Linked DNA regions of Homo sapiens. The protein of the gene in region 2 purifies or fractionates together with the protein of the main gene of each other region. This does not show direct contact. Each region holds a gene or a part of one and is shown on either strand. Other genes may lie near its edges.

Region 1 (8,377 bases), on a different chromosome or scaffold from region 2:
AATGAAGAAAATCTGTGTTGGGGGCAAGGCAGGCTGGTCCAGAGCACCAGCATCCACATGGATAAAATCTAGTACTGGGACTCTCAGGCAGGGAGGGCAGCATGAAACCACTGGGTCCCGGGAATCTTGGTAGTATCTTCAGGTCCTGGAAAGCTGCAGGGCAGATGGCAGCTCTAGGCCAGAGGATTCTGGGAGGCAAATGAGGTAATAAAACTAACTGCCTGTTTATCCATTCTACATCCACTAGATTAGACTAGCACTATTTTAGCCTTGTTTGGGTTCTGTATATACGTGAAACTGTCAGTCAGTTGTTCAAACAATCATTATATATTTATTGAGTGCTTTCAGTATGCCAAGTACTTGTACTGTGCTAGGTGCTGAAGATACGGGGGCTAACAAAAAAGACAAAAATCCCTCCCCTTATGGACATTACTTTCTAGTGGAAGAAGAGAAGTGATACATTGAACACATGCATAACAGATTAGAAGGTGATCTTTATTTTATCCTCTGGATGAAAATCAAGCAGGCTATAAAGGTGAAGTGTTAGAATTTCAAGCATAGTGGTCAGGGCTTATTAAAAAGATGATACTTGAGCTGGGATGTGGAAGAGGTGGACATGTATCTGTGCAGCTATCTGAGGAAAGAGCACAAAAGGAAGAGGGAATAGCCAGTGCAAATGTCCTGAGGACAGCAAAGCTGGCTGTTAGAGGAACAGAAAGGAGGCCAGAGTGGCTGGAGTTGTTGGAGGCAGAGTGAGATCAGAGAAATAAAGAGAGACTTCTAGTCTTTGCAGGCTATTACAAGAACATGGCTTTTATTTTGAATGGGGAGCTCTAGGAAGAGCCTTGGCAAAAATTGACACCATTGCTGTTGACCCGAGATTGAACTAGAAAGAGGGCCAAAGATGTAAGCAGGAAGACCAGTTAGGAGGCCATTGTCATATCCTAGGCAGAAGATCATGATGAAAGCGTGGACCAGAATGGTGGTGGTAGAGATAATGAGAAGTGATCAGAGTCAAGAAATTTTTTTTTTTTTTTTTGAGATGGAGTCTCACTCTGTCACCCATGCTGGAGTGCAGTGGTGCGATCTTGGCTCACTGCAACTTCCGCCTCCCAGGTTCAAGAGATTCTCCTGACTCAGCCTCCCAAGTAGCTGGGACAACGGGTGCATGCCACCATGCCTGACTACTTTTTTTTTTGTACTTTTAATAGAGAGGGGGTTTCATGATGTTAGCCAGGATGGTCTCAATCTCCTGACCTCGTGATTCACCCCCCTCGGTCTCCCAAAGTGCTGGGATTACAGGCATGAGCAACCGCGCCTGGCCGAGTCAAGAAAAAATTTAAAGGTAGCCTCTCAAGGACTTTCTGATATATTAGATAAAGGAGATGAAGTAAAAAAAATCAATGATGACTCTAAGGAGTTTTGTCAGAGCAAGTAGAAAAATACTGTTGTTTATTGAAGGAGACTATTAAAGGTGGCATAGGTTGGGAAAGCAGAGATAATAGGGGTTGAGTTTTGGGTCTGTAAAGCTTGTGATACCCATTAGGCATCTACACAGAGTCTGGAAGTCAGAAGAGAGTCTTGGCTACAGATATGAATTTGGGAGTCATCAGAATATAGAGAGTTTTGAAGGGAAGAGACTAGATGAGATCCACAAGAGAGTGACTGTAGAGAAGAGACAAGGTGCAAGGACTGAGCTTGAGGCAACCCAACATCCAGAGGTCCTAGATAAGAGGGGGAACCAGCAAAGGAGACTGAGAGGAACAACCAGTGAGGCAGGAGGCAAATCAGGTGGATGTGTTGTCCCAGGAGCCAAGATAAAGGCGTTTAAAGGAGGAGGGAGTGGGCAACTGGGTCAAATGCTGCTTAAGGGTCAAGTTAGATGCAAAATGGCCTTTGGATTTAACAACGTGGAGGTCAGTGGTGACATTGACCAGAACAGTTTCAATGGAGTGATCGGATAAGAAAGCCTCAGTGGAAAAGGTTTGAGAATAGAAGAGGAATTGGGTGCAGATGCTTCTTTTTGCCATTAAAAAAATGTTTTTTTTTTTTTTATTGTTGCTGTTTGTTTTTTTGATGGATTCTTGCTCTGTTGCACCCAGGCTGGAGTGCAGTGGTGCGATCTTGGCTCACTGCAACCTCTGCCTCCTGGGTTCAAGCTATTCTCCTGCCTCAGCCTCCTGAGTAGCTGGATTACAGGCGCCTGCCACCATGCTCAGCTAATTTTTTGTATTTTTAGTAGAGGCGGGGTTTCGCCGTGTTGGTCAGGCTGGTCTCAAACTCCTGACCTCAGGTGATCCACCCGCCTTGGCCTCCCAAAGTGCTGGGATTATAGGCGTGAGCCACCGTACCCAGCCAAAAATGGTCTATTTTTTTAAGCCAGTAATTTTAACTTTCAATTAATCCAAGTGGGTATTGTGTCCACAACAATCTGAATAAGTCAAATTTTACTTGTGAAATCCCCCTATCAGACAAATGACAAAAAGGTTTTGTGAAATGGGTTTCAGCAATTTTAAGTCTGAAAGTCTCTTTGTTAAACAAAGGAAAACAACCACTGCCTTCAGTAAATTTGCAGCTCAAAGTATTATAAGTTTTATAATCAAACTTCTATTTGGAGCTTCTCACACACACACACACATACACACACACACACACCCCAAAATGATGACATCATAGTTGTCAATTAAATATTGTACCTCATTATAAATAACAATTACTCATTCCAAATTTTTCATTATTGATTTATAGTTGGTTCTTTTTTCATGCCATAGCTACCACATAGTCACCTTAAATTTGTAATGAGGTTTCTCATTCCATAGACATTTGTCTGCCTCTTGTACTTGTAGACACAGGTTCATGTTGTCAACAGTTGGGTATTGAATCTCAAAAAACATTAAGCTTAGGATTAAAGGTAGGGCAGGGAAAGCTGTCAGTAAAACATGCTAACCTAATGTATCTGATGAGGACAGGGTCTAGTTCATACTCAGAACTGCAAGGATGCTGTGAAGTACAATGATTTGATACTTGTGATACCATTTTGTTGTAACATTAAAGCCAAGAGTCTTCTCCACCCAAGGGCAATGCCAGTTTCCCAGAAGGCTCATTTCTCCGAGCCAAAGCTCCAAAGATGCCAGTGCACCCATGCTGATAACTTAGTCTCATGTTATTTCTCAATTTTATGCTTAATTTGCTCCTTTTGATTTTATGTATTTTCACACAGCCAAGTGTACATGGGGATTTACCCATAGTCCTTTAAATGCCATAAAACTTTAATATAGGGAGATAAAAACCATAATAAGCCATGCCTCCAAACCCTCACATTTAGTTCTTTTGAGTTTGACAATAACCAGTTTTAGATTATTTGGAAATTTGGATTTCTACGTACTTGCACTGCTTTAAATGCCCTTGTGCCTTTCCTAACCCTCCTCTCCCACCCAGATGAAAATTATACTCTACTCTTAACCTGGACATGCAACTTCCATTGACTGCACAAAATGGCATCTTTACAATTCTTAAATTATCATCATAATGGCCCACATCATGCATGAGCCAATGCAATTTAATATGGTTCAGAATAAAGCCAAGATGGATGCCCAATTCCCAATTTTAGGCATGCAACCCTGGAATGTCTTTTGGAAAAAATGAAATAATGCTCTTGGTAGGCTGTTGGGTTCATCTGTTTTAAGCATAATTGCCATCTCTCAGCTTCCTAATACCCTTAAAACCTCTGAGAGTCTTTAATGTACAAAGTTCAACAAAAACACCTTCAAAACAAATTAGTTCTAATTATGTTTAATATTGGTTTGCTGCTTTATTGAATAATCTACATTTGCTTTTAAAAAAAGGAAATTCACTTAACTGCATGTCAGTCACCCAAGTTTTAAGTGTACAAATGAAATGGAAAACATTTATTACACAAATTTAATTACAATTCTAAGAAATAAACATGCAAATTAGATAGAGTTCAATTTGCAGATGCTAATCCTCATCCTTGATCTTGTTCCTTCCTCCCTTGATTTTCAGTCTGTGCGTCTTCTTGATTCCTAGGGAGCCAGGCAGCCAGAGGTCTGGTTTTTCACAGTCGGAGGATCACTGTTTTAAAGAAGTGTTATATTTAGCACATCTGGTATAGTGGCAGTAAACAAACATTATAGTCTTTGTAACACTTTTGTGCAGGTGCCTTCTCCCGATTTTATTAGGTCTATGCCTTCCAAGCCTCTGCCTTCATTACACCTGAAATGACCCATCTCGACTATGGAGGGGTCCCTAGACAGAAGTTATGAATTAATGATTTTAAAAAATAAACTCTGAGGCCACTATAGGAGAAAATTACTATTTGCAAAATATTCTGATTCCAAGGCTTAAATTACATTCTCTTGAGCAAGGACAATCTCTTGTATTACTTTTTATTTCCTGGAGGTTTTCCCTGGAGGCTCCCCACCCAGAAAGGGTTGCCAATTCAAGTTGCAGCAGGACCAAGGTTGCTTTTTTTTTTTTTTTTAATACGTACGCAGCTCAGGAGGGAAACGGGCGGGGGCGGGCGGCGAGGGAGAATAACTGTTTGGTCCTGCAAAGACATCTGTTTCTCATCTCCGTTTGCTGTGGCAAAGGAGAAGAAAGTCTTTTGCAAAGGGTGGGAAAGGCACAGATTTTTTTTTTAATCACACGCACACACAACAACAACAAAACTAAACCAAATTTAAAAAGACAAGATATCTCGGAAGGTTCCAGAGTGAATACATTATTCGGCTGGAGCCAAGCCCCCAGGGCTAGGGCGGGAGCCCGAGAGCGCGTGGGGTCTGGGCTGCGGGCTGGAGCTGGGCCCGCGTGTCCCCGGGCACCGGGAGGGGAGGGGAGGAAAAGGAGGAGGGAGGGCGGGAAGCAGGGAAGGAGGCAGGGGGCGGGCTGGGGTGGGGGTGCGGGAAAGGCGCCCCGTGTGCAGCCTGAGGAGCGGCGGCGGCGGCCTGAGCAGAGGGAGGGAGGGAGAGCGGGCGCGCTTGTCATGTTCCCTCTCTCACCCTGGGGGCATCCTGCAGAACCTCTCCTCGGAAATCCACGGGGAAATGGCAAACAGGATTGACGGGTTTCACACGCTCCTCGCTAGACAGAGCCGCTCATTACCATAACCGTCTGCAGCGACGGCGGCGCAGCGCCCCAGTCGCGGCGGCGGGACCTGCCGGGACCCTTGCCCGCCGCGCACCCGCAGTCACCGCCGAGCGGGCGGCCGGGCCGGGACCCGCGAGTGTGCACCGGCGGCCGGGCTGGCGCCGAGCCCAGAGCGGACCAGCAGCAGCTCAAGCGCTGCGGCCGCCGCCTCCCCGCTGACCCCGCGGTAAGAGCCGGGCTGGGCGCGGGCCGCGGGGGCGGGAGGGCCGGGCAGGGTGGAGGGCGAGGGCCCCCCGGGGCTCCTGCCCTCGCAGACGGGCACCCACGCGGCCTCCCGCGCGCCCTCTTGGCACCAGGGCTGTGCCGAGGTCACCGAGTGGACTCGCAGCGGCCGGAGCGGAGTCGGGGCGGCGTGGGGGCCAAGGCACAGCTGGGCGCGGAGGCGGCGCGGGCTTTTCCCTGGGCTAGCGTGCGCCGCGGCGCCTTCACCAGGGCGGGAACCGCCGCCTCCTCTAGGGCTGCTCGGGCTGCCACCCGCGCGCACCGAGACAACTCCAGGGGCGGGTGGGGTCAGAAGCTCTGGTGAGACCTCATGGTCCTCCGTGGCCGCTTAGTCCCTCATCGTAGGGGAAGGGGTTAAGTAGGAGGGGTGCCCCCAGGTCCGGATGCCGCGGCGCTTGGCAGGTGGGGAGAGAGGGATTGTGGATGTCAGGAGCGCGCGTTTGCAAGAAAAAGGAATTGATGCAGTAGCTGACACCTTCTGTCCCCCGCCACCTCCGCCCCCGCACCCTCCTCCCAGGCAGCAGAGCTGCGCTGCGGGCGGCGGCGGCTCCTCTGTCCTCAGCTCACCTCCTCGGCGGGCTGAGGCTGCTGCCCGCCTGGTCCACGCCTCCGCCTCTCGCTTCCCTTCCTCCCCTCCCGCCTCTTCGGCCCTAGCAACTTTCCGAGTGCCCAGCTGTGGTCGCAGAAGCAGGGAATAGGCGTCCTCGCCGCCAGGTCCCACGGGCGCAGGGCGCTCCCGCAACCGCGGGCTTCCAGCGGGTTTGGCCGGCAAGGGAGGGAGGGAAGGCCGGGCCGACATCTGCTGCGGGCTGGAGCGCGGGGGCCCGGGCCAGCCCCGCCAGAGCCCTGCCAGCCGCTGTGAGTCATTTCCTTGGAATCCTACCTTTGGTGTTTATTTCCCTTAGAAGGAAACTTGGTTTTTTTTTTAAAAAAAAAAAAGGATAAGACATAAAGAATAATAATAGCTCTTATTCTTCAGAAGAGGCACACGGCTGCGGCACCGTAGAAAGACAACTTGCCTTTGTTCCCGGACACTTGGGGTGTTGTTTACTTTCTCCTGCGGCCAGCGGCCGACCGGGCGCTGCTGGCTACCCGGGGAGGGGCTGAGGGCTGCGGCACCGACACCCCGGGGGTGTGTCTGTGCGGGAGCCAGGATGTGGTTGGTGGCTGCCGCCCGCCTTCAAGAGGTCGGCCCTCCAAACCTCGGACCCCACCCCCGCAACCGCCACACACACACACACCTTGGGCACCAGGGCTCGGGCATCGGAGCACCCCTTCGTGCTCTTTAGGCCCAGCACCTGCAGCCCCAACCACAGGACCCAGCTTCAAGCTCTTGGCCTCGCGGGGCTGCAGCTGAGAAATGTACTTCCCAGGGCAGACAGGTGTACTGCAGGAACGGCAGAAAAGCGACATCTGTTTGTTTAGAAGGGTTGAAGAATTTTGTTCCGCCCATCCAGTCCCTTCCACTACCACCACCAGGAGCCGGACAAGCTATTGAGATCATTTTGGGACAATGTGGAGGTCAGGGGCTTGATGCCATTTAAAACTGGCAGCATCGATCGGGGGTGGAAATAGCCCTTTACTTCCCTGCTTTCCAGTGCTGGAATCAGACTGCTAACTGCTATAATGATCTTAATCAAATGCTCTCCAATTTTCAATGACAGATGGAAGAAGAAGTGAGCAAAGAATGACCTGGAGCCCCTTGTTAGATTCAAGGTGCCGCTGAATTCATAGCTACCCTGTTTTGTGTGCCAGCCACTCCTATTAGCATCATAATTGCTTCTAGGAAAGAACAAGCCCAACTCATCTGGAAAAAAACAAATTGTATAGAAATGCCTGGTAACTTTACTACGAACATTTGCTGGAAAAGCTTGGCATTCTAGCCCTCAGTCTTCTGGGGATGCTGGAAGTGTCATTCCACTACATCCACCTGGGTGTCAAAACAGACATTCAGGAGCCTGAGGATGAAGGGTTAGGGCTTTTTTTTTTCTTATCTTTTAAACCCATGCATAGACAAAACACACTCTAACACCCTCCTGTTGAATCCATCACCTCTGATCTTAGAAAATAAATTTTGCCATAATGTATATCCTTTTCTTTATTTAATATTAATAGAACACGAATTTGTGGACTTGAATTGCTGACGTCAGTAGCAGAATTATAAATCTTATCAGACAGAGAATTATGACAGTTTAGATCTCTACATATAATACGAAGAAAGATTCACGTTAAGCATTTGTGCTTAACGCTGCCCTGTCCAATTTTTCGTGAACATTCAACTTGCCTTCTTAATTTGTTAACATCCAGTGTAAGTTTTAAATAGACTAGGAAGACTCAATTGCAAAATCTCCTCCCCGCTCCCAAATAATCCCAACTCATTCATGTTTTATTCAGATTTACATAAATCACTTGCAGAACTCAGCCTCTCTAGTTTAGGGTTTTGTGTGTAACAGTTCTCAATTTAAAAAAGAAAAACTTAGTAAAATTAGATATTGTGAACAAAATAATAGCCAAGATAAATACTGTTATGCCATGTTTCAAGTTCACGTGCATAATAGGATATGCTGGAAATAATGCTAACAAATAGAAACGCTGAAATTCCTCACAACCAAAAAAGGTACTACCAAAAAGTTATTAAAATATAAACAAACTCTGACAAACATAAAACAGCACAGGGCCCATATAATGTCCTGTTAAACAAAAGTAATTGCTGCCAGGAGCCTGCAAATGTTTTTCTTTCTTAAGGGGCATGAGTTTGACAACCTGCTTTTGTTTACATGAAATAAAAGTCTGCATAGGCAAAAGGCTTGCATCTTATTCCCATGATCTAACACAAAAGTGAGTGTAAACTTCAAACTAGAAAATGTTGATTCTCTCAATAAGAAAGGGCTGCTGACTGTTGAAAAGCTGTAATTCATGTGCTCTTGGCAATAGTATTTCCTGATATGATTGTCTCTTAGAATAGGTGAAGAAACTGGACAATTTCATG
Region 2 (7,739 bases):
TGGAGCTGCTGGCGGCTCAGCATGATCTGTGGCAGCAGCCCCGAGCTCTCCTCTCCACGCCCTGCACAGGCAGGGAAAAGGGAAAGAAAAAGGAAAAAGGCCAGTTTTGCTTAGCTTATTCCCTGATGAACAGTTAAAATAATTCACCACTTTATTCAATTCCAACCCTGTGATAAAATGTGCCACAAAAGAACTTTTGCTGCATCCCCAAGTACAACTGTCTCAAGAAAAAGCACACGGTACAGTTGTTGGGGTTGAAAAACAAAAAACAAAATTCAGTTTCTCCCATCACATCCTCACAGCACACTTAGGACACCAGAGGTGTGGGGACCTCTCCCCAGCAGCAAGGAAGCAGTCAGTTCTGCAGCCGGACACTGGCTGGGGTCCTGATTCCATTAAATCTTGATGCTGGGAGAAAGCATCAAATCCCATAGGTTGAGTGCTCTGTCCCACAAGACTGCCCCCCACTTCGAGAGCCAACGGCAAGCCTCAGGTTGTGTTACTTGTGCTTCTGACTGACTGGCTATCAATCAGAGTGTCCACAACCCTCACTGAGCACGCAGATCTCAGGGAAACACTTTAGTTTAGCGGTTTATTATAAAGGAGACTACAGAGGACACTGAGGTGATGCACAGGGCGAGGGACGGGGGCTGAGACACAGAGCTCCCGTGTCCTCTCTGGGTGGGCCCCCCTCCAGAAACATCTGGAAGCTATCTTCAAACCCAGTCCATACATAGGCAAGACTGTTTGGCCACTGGTGATCAGCTTAACCTTCAGCTCCCCCACCCCTCACCACTCCCCGAGGTTGGGGATCGGGGCTGAAAGTCCCAACCTTCTAATCCTGCCTAGGTCTTTCTGGTGACCAGCCCCTGTTCTGAAGCTACCCAGGGGTTGCCGGCCCTTAGCCAACGCATTACGAAGACATCACTGACGAGCCCGAGGATTTTAGGAGTTGTGTACTAGGGAAGACCAAATACATATTCCACAGTATCACACAAGCTGAACTAGCCCTTTTTTTCATGGAATGCCATTTTTATTTGAAAGAACAACTGACCAACTTTGGTTATTAAGAATTTGGTATCTGGCAGAAATTGACTTGAAAATGAACACACTGCGTCCCTCACTTCACAGAAAGTAACTGACAGTATTTGTTACCAATGATAAAATCCAAGCTTTCAAGAGAAAATTAGAATTTTGGAAAACTTTTCTCTACTACTGCTAATTTGACAGTTTCTCACTTTTTCTTCTGATGAGATCAGTGATGACATTAAAAAATAGGATTTTCTTCAAGTTTACATAATGGAATGTGTTAACATTTAGAAAAAAAAACAACTCCATGTAACAATATTTCCAAACAACCCCCGTGTGATGTTACCAAATCATGTCCATGAGCAAAAGACCCACTCTGAGCACAAGACAGACCTCAGGGTTCTGACGGAAGAGAGTACAGAAACGTCACTGACTCCGAAAGGCCGGCACACTCAAACACGCTGCCACCTGGCGAGTTATGGTGCATCGCTAAGAGCCTCCAGGATGACCCCTCTTCTGCCCACATGGAAGTGTGACGCCACATTTTCCTTACACATTTCAATAAAGCAACTGGAACACACGGAATGCAGAAGCAGGTCTGAGAATCCAGCCGTCACCTCTTAAACCTCATATTTTAAAAGGATGTGCAAAAGTGTAAAACAACACTGTTCTTCTTGCTTAATCTTTTTGTTTTTGAAAAGTTGTTTCTCATTAAAAAGGTTATGTTAACATGTAGTAGATTCTTTTAAAGTAAAATAAATATTGTAAGTTGTTCTGTTTTAATTTCAAATATAGAAAACATCAACAGCGATAACCAGCACAAACAAAGGCTCTCTGGATCCTCAATATAACTATTAAGAGTATAAAATTATTCCAGCACCAAAAGACTTTGCAAACCAACTCTAGGTCAGGGTTTAGCAAACCACAACCTGGGCGACATCTGGCCAGCTGCCTGTTTTCTGTAGGCATGCTCCTGTGGAAGCAGGGCACAGAGCCACGCCCATCCATCTCTGCAGGGTCTATGGCTGTCTTCCTGCTAAAGGCAGAGTTGAATTCAGTCGTTGCAACAGGGACAGGATGGCCTGAAAGTCTAAGATACTTACCATTTGGCCCTTTACAAAAAAGCTTGGCCACCCCGAAACTAGAGTAAGCCCATTTTCCCAATCTTTATTATTGCAGTAACTTCCTATCTCCATTCTTACCCACCACCATCCACTCTCCAAAGGGCAGAGTGACCTTGTTAAAAACAAAGCTGATGTCGCTCCTCCGCTTAGGATCTGAAAAGCTCACAATCACTCAGAGTCCTGAGCACACGATTCAAGTCCTTTATTCATCATCCTGTGGCCCCAGCCAGCCTCCTGCTCATCACAGCCACTCCCTTTTCTGCCAGAGGACCATGCCAAGCACTGACCTCTCAGAACATACCATGCTCTGTCCAACCTCCACACCAAGCACTCTCCACCTGGAACATTCTCCTCCCCTTCCCTTCCTCCCTCTTCTTATACCCTGATGTCCTCCCCTCCACTCCCTACCCAAGTCTGTGTACTGGGTACTTCTTCACATTGCCTCAGTGTGCTCTGGTCCAGCCATGGTGCAAGGACCCACCTGCTTGTCTGTGTCCAAACAGCGTTTCCTGAAGGCAAGAACTGCATTTCTATTTCCAACAGCCAGCACTAGCAGCCCTTTGGTATGCTGTCGTGAACTTTTCAGATGTGCCAAGCTGAAAGCTGGCCCCTGCATTACCCTTCATTTTTCTTAAACTGGCTCCCTGAAGTGACAGAGTCAGCTATTTTCCTATGCAAGAGGGTCTCTTAAGACAACAGCCTCTGAACAGTTACCAGTTAACGTGTTTGTTTGTCAGAGCTTTCCATACATTTTCTGGAATCTTCACAGCAACCCTGTAATGGTCACAAGTAATAGTACCCGTTTAACAGATGAGAAAAGAGTAAGTAACTTCCCAAGTTAACACAAAGCCTGAAGAGGGTGAAAAAGGGATGTGTACCAAATTCCACGTGCACAATTCCTCTCCATCACCTGGTAATATCATGACATTCCATATGCTGACTGACATCCAGTGGGAGAGACGAGCCTAATAATACATGTGATAAAATAAGGGAACCACAAGCAGGACACAGCCAATTGCTAAACAACATGGAACACAGTGTGAAAGGGAAATCTGGAGTCTAAGACGACACTGAACGCTGAGGGGAGCTGGAGCAGGGACTCGCCAAGTGGGATTGGAGGTGGATTTAGAAGGATCAGCAGGGCTTAGGGAATGGACAGGAAGCAAAATAAATACTCTAGGCAAAGAAAGAAACAGGAGCAAAGATCAAGGGATGGGAATAATCACTGAATAATAACGTAAACATTAAGAGGCCAGGCCCAGTGGAAGGGATCTGGGTAGATGGACATGAAGCAGGTAAGGAAAAACAAGAAACTGCTATTTTTGTGTTTAAATATAGCTAAAACCAAGCCCCAATACTTTAAAATACAAGAGAATTAACAGTTGTATCTAATACTTGAAAAGCACTTTTCAAGTTGCAACAGCACTGCACATTGTTTGATCTTAACAAAAAGCTTCTGATTTAACTTCTAGATAAGCGAGCTGAAGCTCAGAAAGGGGCCCTCAGAGTTGAAAACAGCAGACACAAACCCAACCTGGAACTTCCCATCAGAACAGCAGACTGCTTAAAATCAGGGAACGTGGAAAATCACCAGGTATGATTCAATACCACCACATATCTTGTAAACTTAACTTCACGATGTAACGATGACCAGGCCAGCCTCCTGAGCGTTAAGATGTGGCTGTACTAAGCATGATGAGTCTGTGAATCTTTTTTTTTTTTTTTTGATATGGAGTCTCGCTCTGCTGCCCAGGCTGGAGGTGCAGTGGCGTGATCTCCGCTCACTGCAAGCTCCGCCTCCTGGGTTCATGCCATTCTCCTGCCTCAGCCTCCCCAGTAGCTGGGACTACAGGTGCCCGCGACCACACCCAGCTGATTTTTTGTATTTTTTTTAGTAGAGACGGGGTTTCACCCTGTTAGCCAGGATGGTCTCGATCTCCTGACCTCGTGATCCGCCCGCCTCGGCCTCCCAAAGTGCTGGGATTACAGGCGTGAACCACTGCGCCCGGCGAGTCTGTGAATCTTAAGGCATACAACTGACTTCCTAAAGGCAGAGGCTTCCTATGAAGCTCTCATAAGTCAAACTGCAAAATATTACTAGACTGTTTGCTTGTTTGATGGCCTTCCCCAGAGGATGCTTTCCTGAAGGTTCTCTTCAATGGCACAGATATAAATATTAAGTAAATGAAAATTCTACAATGGAATATAGAAATCAGACCGGAAATAATTCAAATAAGCAGACACCATGTCCCATTAAGACCAAAAAAAAAATATAAATGAATAAATACCAAATGCCCATTATCTGTACACAGAAGAAATCAATAAATATGACTGACAAGTTTTGCATTCACCAACACCGTATTTCATTGATTCTAAGTACATTTCCCCACATCTTAGTATCTCTGAAATTAGATGTAGATTTTATATATACATATAAAAGACATTATAGGAGATTATATATAAAAGACACACCTAATTTCAAAGATTATATATATACATATATAATTATTATTATTTTTTCTTTTTTCTGAGACAAGGTCTCACTCTATTGCCCAGGCTGGAGTGCAGTGGTGCAATCATAGCTCATTGCAGCCTCAACCTCCCTGGCTCAAGCGATGCCCCCACCTCAGCCTCCTGAGTAGCTGGGACTACAGGTGTGTACTACCATACCTGGCAAACGTCCCGAATTTCTTTCTTTTTTTTTTTTTTTTGGTAGAGACAAGATCTCACTATGTTGCCCAGGCTGGTCTCAAATTGCTGGGCTCAAGGGATCCTGCCATCTTGGCCTCCTGAAGTGCTGAGACTACAGGCGTGAGCCACCGAGCCAGACATTATCTTACATTCAATGAAACAGTAACTTTCTGGTGCTGATGCTACAGTTAACTTAATTTTTGTTACCTTTCTGCGACTTAAAATGTTTCTTTCAAAGTACCAATGTAAACTCCCTTGGAAAGGCTATCCTACCAGATTAACCAGATATCTATGTTACTTACATAACTCCCCAGACTCAAGCTTGACTTAAGCAAACAAACCTTTAGTTTTGTTTAGTCTATCTCTTTAGAAACAGGTTAATGTCTAATTCAAAGCAACAGATCATGGATTAAGAAACTGATTAAAGCAAAATCAACAAATAAAACCCCAATACACTTAAAACTACAAATTCTGAGAAGAAAGGAACCAGCTGTTATCAAGCTATAAAGCTATATAAAACCAGGTTCAATATAAGACCCTCCTCCCCCAACCCCTCCCCACGGTTTCTCCATAGGAGCAATTAGTGTAATATATAAAGGAGCAAGACCCATAGCTTCCCTGCAGGTAAGCAGGTTGCAGTCATGTGGAAAGTGACATCACAGGCAAAGGTGCTGCAGCACTTGCTTGACGTGCAGGTGTTTCACTTACTTACTGTCTCTGTGGTATCTACTCTTCAAATAGTTTGAGAATTGGTTGGAAAGTGATGCTATTCTTGAATCCTTGTTACTAATCTTCTATCATTTTGACACAGACTTCCTTTAAAGGCATTCCATTTTCATTTGCCTTCAAAAGCATTTTCACACGCCTCTTGGTAGTAAGATTTTCACCGAGCTTTAGAAGAACAGCTCCATCCCAAGGCTGGACGGCCGCATGCCACAGTGGGGCTTCATCAGTACTGTGCTGGCTGCAAATGGTCGCTGAAGCAGTACAGCGCTCCACGGCTCTGCGGCCAGTCGGCGTGGCTCCAAACCCTGGCCCTGCCATACACTCGCTTTGTGACCCAGGTTAATTGCTCCCACGCCTCGGATTCTGCATCTGAGACTGGGAAGAACAGTATTTCCTTCCTTCTTCGGTGGTGTGAAGATTCACTGACATAGGAAAAGCACTGCGAGCAATCTCTAGCACAGAATGACCACTCAGCAACTGTTACCTATCATGACCTTCGTGCTGGGTCCTCTACAAGGGCTGGGGTGGGAAGGGGGACAGCCAGCCTTCAAGCTTGAGGAGCTCAGTCTACCAGAGAGAGAAGCAAAGGATGAAATACCATGTGACATTGCAAAACACATCACATGCTGAATGAAGTACGTTCCAGGAGAGGGAGCAGGGGCTGGGTGAAGGTGATTCCATAACATGCAGAAAAAATCTGCACAACAGTTAACAATTTCCAGAAAGGAGCCACCGTTTAGAACCGCAACATCGTGGAATTAGAAGCTAACAAACAACTTTTCTACTTGCTTCCTGCTGGAAGCCCCCTGGTTTTACTATTTTAACTCTTGGTCAACTCAGCATATAAACTCACCTAGTCCCACCTTCCAGCAAAGGGAGGAGATGCAAGTCACCACTGACTGCTGCTTATACACCTGCTCATCAGCAGGACACTTAATAACTTCCTTGTGAGCTCAGCTCTACTCCTACCTGCAGGGGGATGGGAAGTCTGATGACCCAGTGGAATCACAACTCTTAGCAAAATGACCTGACCCATAGCTAAACCCAATTCTTTTAAAAAAAAAAGGGGGGTGGGGTGCGCATCAAATTTTACATAGGCCAGCACTTTCACCATAGGTTGATTCTGATTCCCCAGCCCAAAACTATTAGTTTTAAAAACAAAACAGAAATCAAAACAAAAACCAAAGGCTTTTCTATGTCACTCACTTCATGACCTCCAAAGTCAGGAGTGCCTACTCCTAGCCCTGCACCACTTCCTGTGCACTGGGCATCACCCCACTGAAGTCAGGAGAGGACCCAGGCCTTAATCTCTAAGGCTCCTTCTCCTTACCCATTGCAGAGAGGGCAGAAAGACGGCCAGAGTGCAGGGCTGTAGTAAAGCTCTACAGAGCTGAACTTGGCCCAGAACAAAACCTTCAAGAACAAAATGCCTCACAAGCCACAAATCTAAACAAACAAAATCTGCTATACCTTAAGTTCTACAGCCTGAGCAGCAGTGCACGATAAAAACCCCTGTGAACTGCCCATCTCTCTTTTTTTTTTTGAGACAAAGTCTTGCTCTGTCGCCCAGGCTGGAGTGCAGTGGCACGATCTCGGCTCACTGCAAGCTCTGCCTCCCGGGTTCATGCCATTCTCCTGCCTCAGCCTCCCAAGTAGCTGGGACTGCAGGCGCCCGCCATCACACCCGGCTAATTTTTGTATTTTTAGTAGAGACGGGGTTTCACCGTGTTAGCCAGGATGGTCTCGATCTCCTGACCTTGTGATCTGCCTGCCTCGGCCTCCCAAAGTGCTGGGATTACAAGCGTGAGCCACTGCGCCCGGCCATCTCTCTCCTTTTTTTTTTTTTTTTGAGACGGAGTCTCGCTCTGACGCCCAGGCTGGAGTGCAATGGCACCATCTCGCCTCACTGCAACCTCCACCTCCCAGGTTTAAGCAATCCTCCTGTCTCAGTCTCCTGAGGAGCTGGAATTACAGGCCGGCCCTGCCACGCCTGGCTAATTTTTGTATTTTTAGTAGAGATGGGGTTTCGCCATATTGGCCAGGCTAGTCTCAAACTCCTGACCTCAAGTGATCCACCCGCCTCAGCCTCCCAGAGTGCTGGGGTTACAGGTGTGAGTCACCGTACCCAGCCACCCATCTCTTATCTCTCACCAACATCTCTCCCTCAAG
Region 3 (7,739 bases), on a different chromosome or scaffold from region 2:
GAACCCAGCAGGCGGAGCTTGCAGTGAGCCGAGACTGCACCACTGCACTCCAGTCTGGGCGACAGAGTGACACTCTGTCTCAAAAAACAAAAAGGAAAAAAAAAAAAAGAAAGAGCTGCTCCCTTTGCCTGGAATGGCATGTCAAAGTCATAAAGATAGAAATGACTTTGTACTATGAGTAAACAGCAAAGTAATTACCTTGGCTAGAATGCAGAGTTTCTATAAAGGAAATGAAAATTTTAAAATTAAGTAAAAAAGAAAAAAAAAACATTTTAATGATGCCTTCAAAGCCTTACTATAACAGAAAGTTGAGGGATAAAAATGAAAACAATATTTGTACAAGTTATTTATAACAGATTAGGACAAAGGTAAGAGTAAGAGTAAAGGAAATCACTTAGAAAGCTTAGTTTTCAAAAAACTCAGATCAGGGTCGCAGTAACAGGAGTGTAGGCAGCATAAGATAATGACTTGGAAAGAAATACACAGAACAATTAAAAGTTAGAAATCAAAAACAAAAATCAGTTGGATTTAAATGTCGAAGATCAAGGACAGAATAACTTTGAGGAAGCTGTGGCTAGAAAAACACAGAAATTAGAAAAGTATGGGATTAATGAACTCAACTTTCCAAATGTAAACAGCCAATGTCAACGTGACACCTACGTCCTTTGAACAAGTGGAAAATATACAAGACAAATCAGTGAGGGGCCAGGCACAGTGGCTCATGCCTGTAATCCCAGCACTTTGGGAGGCCGAGGCAGGCGGATCACCTGAGGTCAAGAGTTCAACACCAGCCTGGCCAACATGGTGAAACCCCATCTCTACTAACAATACAAAAATTAGCCAGGCATGGTGGCACGTGCCTGTAATCCCAGCTACTCAGGTGGCTGAGGCAGCAGAATTGCTTGAACCCAGGAGGCAGAGGCTGCAGTGAGCCGAGATCGCGCCACTGCACTCCAGCCTGGGTGACAGAGCAAAACTCCAACTCAAAAAAAAAAAAACACCGAAAAAAAAGAAACATCAATGAGAAATTAGAAATTGAGACTGTAGATTTGTGTATTATACATATATAAGGTAGAATCTTAATACATGTAAACATTAGCACCCAGGAGAAATAGGTAAAAAATTTTAAGTGTGTACAATAACAGTTATGTATATACGTATACACATACTTGAGAGACATAACAGTGACTCCAACTTCCAAAATATTACAAATCTTAGAAACTGTGTATCAACAATAACTGACTATATGCCAAAGACACACACATTCCTCTGTATGCAGGTGCACAGGCTAAAAAAGACAGGACTAAGTTCTTGGTAGTGACTACACAGATATTTTTGAATTTCGAAAATGATGCTAAATCATGGGACTGCTAATCAACTACTGAAATATAAGCTAATACATATTTGTTAAAAAATTACTTCTCTGGTCTGGTGCAGTGGCTCACACCTGTAATCCCAGCACTTTGGGAGGCCAAGGCGGACAGATCACAAGGTCAGGAGTTCGAGACCAGCCTACCCAACACAGTGAAACCCCATCTGTACTGAAAATACAAAAAATTAGCCAGTCATGGTGGCAGGCGCCTGTAATTCCAGCTACTCAGGAAGCTGAGGCAGGAGAATCACTTGAACCCGGGAGGCAGGGGTTGCAGTGAGCTGGGATCATGCCATTGTACTCCAGCCTGGGCGACAGGAGTGAAACTCCATCTCAAAAAAAAAAAAAAAAAAATTACTTCTCTTCCAGAACTTCGTTTTCTCTCCTACACCTGTTCCTCTTCCCAGAATTTTCTCTATCTTAACGATGACACCATCATCCACCCAGTTGCTCAAGCAAAAAATCTAGGAGATCTTGATTCCTCTCCCACTGATCCAATCCAATAATACTAACCTATTGATCCCACTTCCAAACTGACATCCAAATCCTTTCCATCTTCACTACCACCCTATTAACAACATCATCTCATGCTGAGACTTGAAATGTGGCTGGTACACGTTATTTACACTCAAATAATAAGATTTTGGAAAATTTTGGTCGAATACAAATATTGTTAATTTCACCTATTTCTTTTTTCTTATAAAAACATGGCCAGTAGAAAACTTAAAATCAACAGGTAGCTTACATTATATTTCTGTTGTAAAGCACTGTTTTAAACTATAACATTTAGGTAATAAAAGTGCAAAGAAGGCCGGGCACGGTGGCTCACGCCTGTAATCCCAGCACTTTGGGAGGCCAAGGTGGGCGGATCACAAGGTCAAGAGATGGAGACCATCCTGGTCAACATGGTGAAACCCCGTCTCTACTAAAAATACAAAAGTTAGCTTGGCGTGGTGGCATGCGCCTGTAGTCCTAGCTTCTTGGGAGGCTGAGGCAGGAGAATTGCTTGAACCCGGGAGGCAGAGGTTGCAGAAAGCCGAGATTGCACCACTGCACTCCAGCCTGGTGACAGAGTGAGACTCCTTTTAAAAAAAGAAAAGAAAAGAAAAGAAAAAGTGCAAAGAAAACAAAGGCTGCGCTTACCATAAAAGTCAGGATAATGTTACTCTTAAGGAAATGGAGTGGCAAGTGGAGGAGGAAAGAGAGATTGTGTTTGAAAGGGAATCCATGGAGGGATTCTGGGATAGTGGCTGTCAAAGTGATGTCTCCTATCATAGGTGATCGTTAACAAGTTGGTATTACCTTCTAATAGTTCATTAAGTTATACATTCATTTTGTACATTTATTATTAGAATAAAAATTCTAATAATTTTTAAAATTATTTTCAAAGTAGGATTTAGATCTTTAGATTTAGGATCTGAAAATGAGACTCATTAATATGTGTCCTGGGGCTTGTGGTCCTGTACACATGAAGCGATCTTAGGGCAGGCAACATGCAAATTAAAAGCCCAAAAGGACTATTCTAGAGTCCAGGAACTCTGGGAGCTGATCCTATTAAGCACCATTACAGAGAAGCGGGACAGCCTAGCTGTGAAGGGCACAAATTCTGGAGCCAAACCACCTAGATTCAAATTCTGACTCCACTACTGCTAACTATGCAAACTTCAGCAAGTTACTTAAACTTTCTGTGCCTTTGTTTTCTAATGTGTAAAATGGGCTATCTCATGGGGCTGTTGTAAGGACTGAATTACTTAATACACATAACTACTTAAAGGCAGAGAAAAATTAAGTACTTCATTTGGATGTTTGCTAGTTTTATTGTTATTTCTACACCAAAGAGATCTAGATCTTCAGAATTGAATACGATTATGTGAAGTAATCCCATACACTACTATAGAAGAAGCAGAGAGTCAAATAGCTTTCCTAACACATTCTAAGCTTATTTATCTGAAAAGTCAAAAATTCCAGGAAACATTACTCCCTCATATTACAATACAGCCAGCAATTCCCAAAGGTATGTTACCCTCCATGCAGCTTTGGTCTTCCTTTCTAATTATGGCTCCCATTTCCTCTCTGACTCCCCACTCTTTTAACAGCTGCTAATGTAAGAGAGAAATCATGGTCTGGTTAAGAAAGAAACATAAGAACATTGAGATAAGCATGTTACACTTTAACCAGGCCAGAATCAGCACTAATTCTGTAAAAAGAATCCTAACAAGAAAACTAAAACTCCCCAAAGAAATTCTGAAAATTTAGAGGAAAGGAGCATATCTGTGTCCCTTAAATACTAAGAGTTAGTTTACCTGTTCATCTGAAGCTAGACTAGTGAACAGTGGAACAATTTCACTTTTCACACTGTCTAATTCCAAAACTTTTGCAAATTCACCCAATTTGGAAGCAGCAGCACGTCGTACCATTGGTGTGTCATCTGAGCACAAGGAACGGAATTGCCTGCAACATAAAACAATGAAGGTATTTCCCATCAAATAACACTGAATAAACCTGCCCCCCATACACACAGACAGACTTTTAGAGGTTTTATCTTACAATAATCAGTGACTAAGCTTCTACTTATAGAAGTAACAAAAATAAAACATATTCAACTGGATAATAAAAAATGACATCATAGGCCAGGCATGGTGCCTCACACCTGTAATCAAAGCACTTTGGGAGGCCCAGGTAGGAGGACTGCTTGAGGCCAGGAATTGAAAGCAGACTGGGCAACATAGCAAGACCCTATCTATATGCCAAAAATATTTTTGTTGTTGTTTGTCGGGGGCTCAAGTGAACTCCCACCTCAGCCTTCTGAGTAGCTAGAAATACAGGCGGGTCCCACCATGCCCAGCTAATTTTTTTCTTTTTAGTAGAGACAAGGTCTCACTATGTTGCTCAAGCTGGTCTTGAACTCCTGAGTTCAAGCAATCCTCCCACCTCAGCCTCTCAAAGTGCTGGGATTACAAGCATGAGCCACTGCATCCAGCCAGAAATTTTTTTTAAAAATTAGCCAGGCGCAGTAGTGTATGTCGGTAGTCCTAGCTACTTGGAGGCTGAGGCTGGAGGATCACTTAAGCACAAGAGTTCAAGGTTGCAGTGAGCTATGATTGTGCCACCGCACTCCAGCCTAGACAACAGAGCAAGACCTTATCTCTTAAAAAAAAAAAAGAAAGATGTCATAAATCCTACTATCCTAGTATCAGCCACTCATTGGTAACAAGGTACTATGTAAATTGTCAGCTACAAGTCCCCAGTAATCCCAAATAACTCATAGCTTACTACCTGATTTCTGCTTTAACAAGGCAAAAAAATACCATGGCTTACTGTCTGATTTCTGCTTTAACAGCATTTGATGCCCTGGGATAGCAAACGCTGAACAAACCACATGCAGATGTGCGAGAGGTGAACCAATCCCCACTTGCTAAGCGTTTCACCAGAGGTACAAAATAAGCTTCCAGAGCAACAGGAGTATGCTCCTGGGAGATCTGTCTCAGGGACTCCACAGCCTTGTCACGAACAACAGTCTCTTCCACAGTTGCCAGATTTTCCAAAGGAGGCTGAATGGATTAAAAAGGAAAACCAGAGAAGAAAACTTATTGAATCAGGTTAGAAACAGATAATCACCTTTTAAAGTGACTGAAGGGAGGTGGTACACGTAACCAGAATGTTAGCTGCATCATACCAAATGGTTACTTTCAGCTCACACAGTGATAACATATGGTGCGGCCAACCCAAAGACACGACTTCTGTAGAAAAGCCAAGATCTCGTGTCCCAGATGGCAATTCCCAGATGGTGTCTACAAATGACACAGTGTAAAAGACTTGACACAATATTAATATTACTGTGAGTTGAATCACTAGGTTTAAAAGATACATAGCCAAATTCAGACAGGATCATGTATATTTCCTCAAGAGTAAGTACAAAACTATGACCAATGTTAGGCACCACAAATACAGGATAACAGCTTGTCAGGTCACTGAGTCCACAGCCTTTTCAGTATCTTTCCACCATTCCCAGAGGTGCAAGCAACCCTTATCCACCATCTCCATCCCATCCTTTTATCCAACCTATAAAATGCTGAATGCAAAATTGCTTTTTTCAGAACACATTCAGCAACTTTCCATTAGCCATAGGGCAGAAAGGAGTTTCTGACAGAACAATCAAGTGAAAACTACAGAGACTGGCCAGGCACGGTGGCTCACACCTGTAATCCCAGCCGTCGGGAGGCCGAGGTGGGCAGATCACTTGAGGTCAGGAGCTCGAGACCAGCCTGGCCAACATGGTGGAACCCTGTCTCTACAAAAAATACAAAAATTAGCCAGACATGGTGGCACACGCCTGTAAACCCAGCTTACTCAGGAGGCTGAGGCATGAGAATCACTTGAACCCGGGAGGCAGAGGTTGCAGTGAGCCGAGATTGTGCCACTGTACTTGAGCCTGGGTGACAGAGTGAGGCTCTTGTCTCAAAAAAAAAAGGTAAAGTACAGAGATGGTAGGACACCTTGCTTACAGCTTTAGAAATAAAAGAAGCCAAATGGGGTGGATGGTCTGGATTAAGAGCAGTAACTGAATATGGCATGGCCTAGTAAAAAGTGTAAACAGGCTGGCTCTCTGAACCTCTGCCTTACTGAGTTTGCATGTAGTCCAGGTAGATTCTACACATGCCATGAGCTACAGATTTTAAAGCATAAAACCCACATATAGAACTAACCAAGAGTGAAACAGAAGCATAATGAGTTAAAGAAAAGAAGTGTGTCTAATAATATATTTTAAAAATTGTTTGATACACACAGGTAGACAGTATTCAGCTTTCCTAGAAGGTATTTCAGAAACTCATTGAAAAGATACTGTTTCTCACTTGCCAATGCATTTCATGATCTGTCCCCTGCCTACTGTAACCCCCTCTCGTGCAGTACCACTGGATAATAGCTATCATTACTACAGGATGAGGCCATGCTCCTGAGAATTGCTTATGAGTGGTCTCTTGATTTGAACTCTGCCTGGCCCTTGATGACCACTCTGCCTACCCAGCCTCAACACTTCACACTCCAGCAGTTCTTTTTTTTTTTTTTTTTTAAGAGACAGGGTCTTGCTCTGTTGCCCAGGCTGAAGTGCAGTGGCACAATCATGGCTCAGTGCGGCCTCAGACTCCTCGTCCTTCTGCCTCAGCGTCCCGAATAGCTAGGACTCAGACACATGACATCATGCCCAGCTATTTTTTTTTAAGTGTTGGGGTCTCACTATGTTGCCCAGGCTGATCTTGAACTCCTGGCCTCAAGCAATCCTCCTGCTGCTTTGGCCTCCCAAGGCAAGGATTACAGGTGTGAGCCACCACACCCAGCCACACTCCGGCAGTTTTGAACCCAGCCTGTTTCATGCTTCCAAGCCTCTGAAACTCATTTTTTCAATACATTATTATTGGTATATTCTAGCATTGAGGACACAGAAGAAACAAGGCAGACAAGGTTCCTCACTCTAGTGGCATTTACATTCTAATGGAGTAAGACAACAATCAATCAAGAAAATAAGTAGATGGTGATGAGTACTCTATAGAAAAAAGGAGTAGGATGATGTAGTAAGGGATGACTGTGAGGCTATTTTAAGTTGAGTGGTTGGGGAAAACCTCCCTGAGGAGATGCATTGAAGTTGATCCCTGAATGACAAGGAGCCAGCCACAGAAAGCTTGAAAGAGCTTTTCATTAGAGGGAAGACCTAGGGCAAAGGTCCTAAGGGAATAATGAGCTTGGTTAGTTCAAAAAACAGAAAGATGACCAATGTGAATGGAAGAGGTTATCAAGGCCTTTTGCAGTCTGTTCCCTGCCTACTGTCACCTCTTCTCATGCAGTACCACTGGGCATATGATAATCCTACAGAGGCGGGTCATAAAAAGCCTTGTAAGCTAAGGTACAGAATTTGGATTTTCTAAGAGCTATAGCAGAGAGTGAGCCATCTGCTGGGTGATGTGAACTGTAAGAGTCGGGTGAGAGGCAAGAGTGGAAAGCATTGCTAGGAAGCTACTACAGCAATCTAGAGGAAAGATGACAGTCTGGACTAGGCTGGTAATAGGAGGGATGGAAGAAAGTGGACTTATTTGAAATATACGTAGACTCTATAGGAATTACTAATGGATTAGATGTGTGGAACAAGGCACAGAGGATTCAAGAATACATTCTAGGTTTTGGCTTGTGCAAGTGGGAAGATAGTGATACCATTTACTGAAGTGGAACAACTAAATGAGAGGTGTATTTGGGGGATAAAGCTAAGTTTTGTTTTGGGTATGTTAAGTTTGAAATACCTGTTTGACATACAAGTAGAAAAAAGCATAGGCCTATATACATAGACAGAAAAAAAACTCTCTCTCTCTCTCTCTCT

Evidence for each region.
Region 1: the proteins of PPP2R2D (region 2) and SERTAD4 purify together in Homo sapiens (affinity purification with mass spectrometry; 5 studies listed by BioGRID and IntAct, with this or other methods). This does not show direct contact.
Region 3: the proteins of PPP2R2D (region 2) and PPP2R1B purify together in Homo sapiens (affinity purification with mass spectrometry; 5 studies listed by BioGRID and IntAct, with this or other methods). This does not show direct contact.

Annotation. Positions count from the first base shown.
Region 1 is NC_000001.11:210,227,680-210,236,056, forward strand, and holds the start of SERTAD4 (SERTA domain-containing protein 4), read left to right. Parts: upstream 1-5,116; 5' UTR 5,117-5,332; intron 5,333-5,955; exon of another isoform or gene 5,956-6,206; intron 6,207-8,377.
Region 2 is NC_000010.11:131,903,884-131,911,622, reverse strand, and holds part of PPP2R2D (serine/threonine-protein phosphatase 2A 55 kDa regulatory subunit B delta isoform), read right to left. Parts: intron 62-7,739; exon of another isoform or gene 1-61. UniProt on the Homo sapiens protein: Substrate-recognition subunit of protein phosphatase 2A (PP2A) that plays a key role in cell cycle by controlling mitosis entry and exit. Involved in chromosome clustering during late mitosis by mediating dephosphorylation of MKI67.
Region 3 is NC_000011.10:111,756,129-111,763,867, forward strand, and holds part of PPP2R1B (serine/threonine-protein phosphatase 2A 65 kDa regulatory subunit A beta isoform), read right to left. Parts: intron 4,924-7,739; coding exon 4,691-4,923; intron 3,824-4,690; coding exon 3,676-3,823; intron 1-3,675. UniProt on the Homo sapiens protein: The PR65 subunit of protein phosphatase 2A serves as a scaffolding molecule to coordinate the assembly of the catalytic subunit and a variable regulatory B subunit.